Homo sapiens: one gene and its partner. The protein of the gene in region 2 purifies or fractionates together with the protein of the main gene of each other region. This does not show direct contact. Each region holds a gene or a part of one and is shown on either strand. Other genes may lie near its edges.

What was found. Proteins that work in one complex are often made in the same cells at the same time.
Region 1: the proteins of SP3 (region 2) and SEC23A fractionate together in Homo sapiens (co-fractionation; one large-scale study listed by BioGRID). This does not show direct contact.

The regions. Positions count from the first base shown.
Region 1 is NC_000014.9:39,093,198-39,096,853, reverse strand, and holds part of SEC23A (protein transport protein Sec23A), read left to right. Parts: intron 1-714; 5' UTR 715-735; coding exon 736-956; intron 957-3,609; coding exon 3,610-3,656.
Region 2 is NC_000002.12:173,958,718-173,962,373, reverse strand, and holds part of SP3 (transcription factor Sp3), read left to right. Parts: intron 1-3,656. UniProt on the Homo sapiens protein: Transcriptional factor that can act as an activator or repressor depending on isoform and/or post-translational modifications. Binds to GT and GC boxes promoter elements. Competes with SP1 for the GC-box promoters.

The DNA of each region.
Region 1 (3,656 bases), on a different chromosome or scaffold from region 2:
ATTTTTCAGATAGAAACCATGTGAGTTTTAGAACTTTATAATTTTGAAATCTGTTTATATGAATTCTTATAATTTTCAAAACTGATATGGAAAACATAGGATCTAGGTTTTCCCCCTATTTTTGCATTTCTTTCCTATATATCCTTAAAGAAATAAGACACTATTTTTTGCCATCATCTTTTAGAGTGAATAAAAAAGTGTTAAATACCTCTTATTGGGCCTTGTGAACATTGGGTAGAGCCATTAATTATTTTGTTATGAGTTGCTTGCTAATTTTTTTCTGAGATAAATATTTTCATTTGGTCCTGATTTTTTTTTTTTTTGAGATGGAGTTTTGCTCTTGTTGCCCAGGCTGGAGTGCAACGGAATGATCTCGGCTCACCACAAACTTTGCCTCCAGGGTTCAAGAGATTCTCCTGCCTCAGCCTCCTGAGTAGCTGGGATTACAGGCATACGCCACCATGCCTGGCTAATTTTGTATTTTTAGTAGAGACGGGGTTTCTTCGTGTTGGTCAGGCTGGTCTCGAACTCCCGACCTCAGGTGATCCGCCTGTCTCGGCCTCCCAAAGTGCTGGGATTACCGGCGTGAGCCACGGGGCCCAGCTGGTCCTGATTTCTAAGGTGTTAATATTGCTGAATGAGGGGAGAACATTCATATTTTGAACGTTCTTAAGAGGATCCTGGATTTTAAAATATTTTAAAATTTTGATACAGAAATAAGAATCAAACTCCACAATGACAACCTATTTGGAATTCATTCAACAAAATGAAGAACGAGATGGAGTCCGATTTAGTTGGAATGTTTGGCCATCAAGTCGACTGGAAGCTACAAGAATGGTTGTTCCTGTGGCAGCCCTGTTTACACCACTGAAAGAGAGACCTGACTTACCACCTATTCAATATGAACCTGTTCTGTGTAGTAGGACCACTTGCCGTGCAGTTTTGAATCCTTTATGGTAAGTAAAATATATAGAAAAACTAATGTGGCAATGTGATTTTAAAATGTCGGGGTTTTTCTGCATATTTTTATAAAAATCCCTTTGTTTTTGTTCATACTAATTTTTTCAAATTAGGACAGTCAAAACAATCCAGAGAGCTGTAAAATTTTAGGATCATTCTAGTTGTACTGAGTTGGTAATATAAAGAGACCAAATGTAAAAGTGGCACTATAAAAACTGTTAGATTCCATCAGTGTCTTCTGAATAGTGGTGCTGGATGTGTATCAACCCATCTTGCATCATTAGATAAGTCATAATTGGCCGGGCGTGGTGGCTCATGCCTGTAATCCCAGCACTTTGGGAGGCCGAGGTGGTGGATCACCTGAAGTCAGGAGTTCGAGACCAGCCTGACGAACATGGTGGAACCCCGTCTCTACTAAAAATACAAAACTTAGCTGGGGTGTGGTGGCATGTGCCTGTAGTCCCAGCTACTCGGGAGGCTGAGACAGGAGAATTGCTTGAACCTGAGAGATGGAGGTTGCAGTGAGCTGAGATCGTGCCTCTGTACTCCAACTCTGGGTGACAGAGCGAGACTCCGCCTCAAAAAAAAAAAAAAAGTTGTGATTGAGTGACATGATGTTCCAAAAATGTTGTGATTTCTGTTGCTGAAGCCAAAATCTCAGGAATCATCTCTTACTTCTCTTTCCATTCCCTCTCCCCCCAGCCAATCCACTAGCAAATCTGGGTGATCTACCTCTAGAACATTATAGATTCTGTCTCTTACAGCCTCTTATTCCATCTCTGGTAGTATACCCTGCTTCAAGATACCACAGTCTTTTTCCTGGGCAATTTCAATATCCTCCTACCTGCTCTCCCTGTTTCTATTCTTGTCTTTCAGCAGTCTGTTCTCTACCCAGAAGCTAGAGTTTTATGAATGAAAATCAGATGATGAACATCTTCCAGTAGTAGCTTCTTATTCTTGGAATGAGAAATACAAACTCCTTATCAAGATCTATAAAGCCTTGTATGATCTAGCCTCTGTATATATTTCTGCCTTCATCTTGTGTTATCCATTTTCCTTATTCTCATCTACATAATACCTTAACCCTGTTACCCTCTTTCTGATTCTTGAACATACCAAACTTACTCCTACCTTGACAATGGTATAGTAGCTGTGCATTCTGCCCGGATTCTTCTGTCTCCATATTTTCGTATGATTGCTTCCTTTTCATTCTGATCATACTTTAGTTGTCTATTTAAGAAGGCTGTTTTTTAAAGCAGCCCTCTTAAACACATTCTCACATTCTGCTTTGTTTTCTTTAATCTCTGTTATTACAATGTAAAAGTATTTTTGGCTGGGTGCAGTAGCTCACGCCTGTAATCCCAGTGCTTTGGGAGGCCAAGGTGGGAGGATTGCCTGGGCAGCAAAGCAAGACTCCATTTCTACAGGAGGGGAAAAAAAAAAAAAAAAAATATATATATATATATATATATATATATATATATATATATATATATGTGTGTGTGTGTGTGTGTGTGTGTATATATATATGTATATGTGTATATATGCATATATATGTGTATATGTGTATATATGCATATATATGTATATGTGTATATATGCATATATATGTGTATATGTGTATATATGCATATATATGTATATGTGTATATATGCATATATATATATGTATGTGTATATATGCATATATATATATGTATATGTATATGCTGGGTGTGGTGGTATGTGTCTGTAGTCCTAGCTACTTGGGAGGCTGAAGATGGGAGAAACACTTGAGCCAGGAGTTCAATGCTGCAGGGAGCTATGATTCTACCATTGCACTGCAGCATGGGCAATAGAACGAGACCCTGTCTCAAAAAAAACACCAAAAGTATTTTCTTGTTTGTGCATCTGCTTGTCTTTTGTCTGTTTTTTCTAGAATGTAAACTCCATGAGAGCAGTTCTCTTTTTCTTGTATCACCAGCGCCTAAAATAGTGGTTGGTACTTATTAGGCATTCAGTAAATATATTTTTGACCTGAATAAATGTTTTCTAGGTCTGAGTGTAGATGTTACTGAAGTCACTTGAAGAAAAAAATAGGATTATTTTAATTTTATTGATATTTGCTGTATATATGTGTGCATATATATATTTTTGAGATGGTTTCACTCTGTCACTTAGATTGGAGGGCAGTGTTGTGATTGTGGCTCACTGTATCTTTGACCACCTGGGCTCAGATGATCCTCTCACCTAAGCCTCCTAAGTAACTGGGAGTGCAGGCATGTGCCACCACGCCTGGATGATTCTTTGTATTTTTTGTGAAGACTGGGTTTCACCATATTGCCCAAGCTGGTCTTGAACTCCTGGACTCAAGCCATCTGCCGCCTCAGGCCTCCCAAAGTGCTGAGATTACAGGCGTGACCTACTGCACCCAGCCAATATTTACTATATGTTAAAAGTTATATTCACCATTTAGGTAAACTTGTATATGTTAAAAGTGTGAATTAGATATTGGCAGTATCTAAAACTACATGGCTTTTAAAAGTTACTTTGACTATCAATTTGAATATGTTCATGTTTTAGGAAGAAATTAATTTTATTGAAATTAGGATTTTTGTAAAATTGAACTGAAATATGAACTGATATGTCTTTTCTTTTTTTTTAAAACAGTCAAGTGGATTATCGAGCAAAACTTTGGGCTTGCAACTTTTGTTACC
Region 2 (3,656 bases):
AAAACTACTGCATAAGTAAAATTAAAAAGCAGATTGCTTCTCCTGATCTTTTTTGTATTTCAAATGGAACAAAACTTTTCTTGTAACTGTAATTTGTAAAGTTTAGATATCAGTTTACAGATGGGGGAGGGGAGAAGGAAGGAAATATGGGTGAATAATATGTGTATGTACATACATATGTGAGTCTGAGGCCCAAGGATAGAATACTGTCTCCAACCTTAGCCAGCTGTGGCCATATACTTGTAGGGAAGTTTCCATGCTTCTTCAGCTGCTTTTCTGAATTACCAAATCACTCCTGACAACACATATTCTGCCACATGAAGACGAACTAGAATCAATCTGATAAATCTGAGATTTATCAATCAAATACATCATAATTTGCCAATCATAGTAAAATGAAAATAGTTTTGCCTAAAAAAAAAAAAAAAAAAAAAAAAACCCAAACCATATATTTATGATGTCTGGTACCTGCACCCAAGATTTTTCACTTTGAGTAAAATTGGTAAGACTGGCTTGTGTGTATTTGCCTTAGCAAATAGAAAATTTGCTAAAAATTTATTTTTCCAGTGCAAATATGAACTTAAGACATCTTTTCAGCACATCTTAGAAAAGGAAATTCACATGAGTTCATGGGCTTAGATAATCTTTTATTACTCAAATGACTGGGAATTATGAGAGGTTATAGCTGTGTTTTTAAATAATTGTATTTTGGAATAATTTTAAATTTATAGAAAAGTTGGAAATACAGAACTGAGTAATCTCATACCCTTCATCCAGCTTCCCCTAATGTTAGGATAATGATGATACATTTGTCCAAATTAAGACATGAACATTGGTATGACATTACTAACCAGACTTTGTTTGCGTTTCACCAGCTTTTCCACTAATGTCCATTTTCTCTTCTGGGATCCAGTCCAGGATTCCACATTGCATATATATTGTTGTGTTTAAACAAGTGGAAATATACACATACAGATGAACTTTATGCCAGTTTAGCTTGGTATTTTGAGATTAAAAGGGCCTTGAAAAGCCAATCAACTGTGCTGAAGATTGCTTTTAATATTTGGATTTTGAATTTGGAATTTGTCATAAAAGAGGATCCTAGCCAAGGGTGTTTGGTTACCCACAGTACATTGCTGAAGAAGTCTAGTCATAAAGCAGTCTCGTATATAATGTCGTACAACATGGACTCTGAAAGATGGTTTTATAGCAACGCTCCTTTGTACTTAAGTTGTGGCTAATTTTAGTAGTAAACCAGGAAATAGAAAAAAGTAGACCTTTGTGCAAGTATTAACTTTGACCAGTTTGCATTTATGTGAACTTGTGGATTATTAATTTACTTCATTTTTACTTTAGTGGAATAAAATAAGTGACTTTTATTTTTATTTTTATTTTTTTGAGACAGAGTCTCACTCTGTCGCCCAGACTGGAGTGCAGTGGCGCGATCTCGGCTCACTGCAGGCTCTGCTTCCTGGGTTCACAGCATTCTCCTGCCTCAGCCTCCCGAGTAACTGGGACGACAGGCGTGTGCCACCATGCCCGGCTAATTTTTTTTTTTTGTATTTTTAGTGGAGACAGGGTTTCACCGTGTTAGCCAGGATGGTCTCGATCTCCTGACCTCATGATCTGCCCACCTTGGCCTCCCAAAGTGCTGGGATTACAGGCGTAAGCCACTGCGCCTGGCCTAAAATAAGTGACTATTATGAAAGTGATTGCTTGATCTTTGGTTTAGGTTGTAAATTTAGTGTTCCTTAATTTGGCACATAAATGTTGAGCTAAAAAATAAGTAATAGCTTACTTCAAAAAAGTTATTTTGCCATTATTTAAAATAAGACCTGTGCTGTCATTGTAACTAATTCATTGGGTAGGGTAATTCTATTTGAAGTCTGAGTTCTTTTAGTGCTCTTTGAAGATTTTAAGAAACTTGAATATTTGCCTAAGTTCTTAATTTGTTTCCACCTCAGCTTCACACCTGTTCTTGTTTCCAGTTATACTCCTTCCTTTCCTATTTCTGGCTTTCGTAAAGGCATTCGTGGGAACTAAGTTAATAATCATTTCCAAATGCTATGCAATAGGTGGTGTGAATTTTTTCTTTTTCCGTTTCCACCGGTATATTTGTATGTAGAGAGACTTAGAGTGCCTTAGTTACAACTTTTTACTGTACTAATGCCAACATTCATGTTAGATGGTGTTTTGTTTGTTTTTTGAGAAAGGCTCGCTTTGTCTCCCAGGCTGGAATGGAGGTGTGTGATTACAACTCACTGCAGCCTCAACCACTGGGGCTCAGTTGATCCTCCCACCTCAGCCTCCCTAGTAGCTGAGACTACAGGCACGTGCCACCACGCCTGGCTAATTTTTGTATTTTTTGTAGAGATGGGGCTTCGCCATGTTGCCTAGGCTGGTCTTGAACTCCTAGACTCAAAGGATCCACCTGCCTAGGTTTTGTTTGTTAATTGTCCGGTAAGAAAGGTACTGAGAGAAACACTGGTGGATTTTTAATTTGGTTTGTAAACTTACGTAGACATAGGTTATGTAGAGGATTATCTTGCTTCTAAACCAAATACTAGTTCTCGTCTTGGTTGCCTGTTTTAATTTTTTTTATTTTTATTTTTATTTTTTTGAGACTGAGTCTCGCCCTGTCACTCAGGCTGGAGTGCGGTGGCGGAATCTCGGCTCACTGCAATCTCCGCCTTCCAGGCCCAAGCCATTCTTCCGCCTCAGCCCCCAGAGTAGCTGGGACTACAGCCCCAGAGTCCCAGAGTAGCTGGGACTACAGATGTACACCATGCCCGGCTAATTTTTGTCTTTTTAGTAGAGGCGGGGTTTCATCATGTTGGTCAGACGGGTCTCAAACTCCTGACCTCAAGTGATCTGCCCGCCTCAGCCTCCCACAGTGCTAGGATTACAGGCGTGAGCCACCGGCCCTGTCACGGTTGTACGTTTTTAAATCTCCTTTTATTCTTTTGTTTCTGTAGTGTTTCCAGTAGTCTAACATCAAACATTTTTCAAACTTTTTTTTTTTTTTGGTCTCAGATGATTTTCTAATTTATTCCTCTCCCATTTGGTATTTAGTGTACTTTATCTCTTTTAGTGGTATATTGCTGATGAAATTTCTTTTACAAAGAAATTTGATTGTGCTTTGCAAGGCTTTGTAGTTTTGAAATATTTGGAGCTGATTCATTGTGGAATTGTGGAAATAAATAGGCTTAAAATTGGTTTAGACTTTTTCATAGAAGGCTCTTAATACCTCAAAATTTGTTTTGATCCATTCTGTCATTGTGTTTGCAATGATTTTAAAGTAAAATAACTTTTCATTCAGTAAATATATATTGATCTTACTGAGTGCCAGGAATTGTGCTAGGCTAATTTTAATGGATGTTTTTCAAATCTATTCTCATAATCTTAGCACTCACAATGATCTTGGGATTGCACAGTGCTCAATAGTTTATAAAATTTAATATTTTTCTTCTGATTCTTATGCCCCTGCAAGGTAATGTTTTTCCGGTTGTTGACATGAGAAAATTGAGTTGCTGTAACTCACACAATTCCACAGTGTAGCCAGAACTAGAACTCAGTTCTGAGCTTTTTTTTTTTTCTTGTGTAATATATTGTCGAGTGTAGTTTTGGCATAAATCATCTAGTAGTTTTCTGATTCA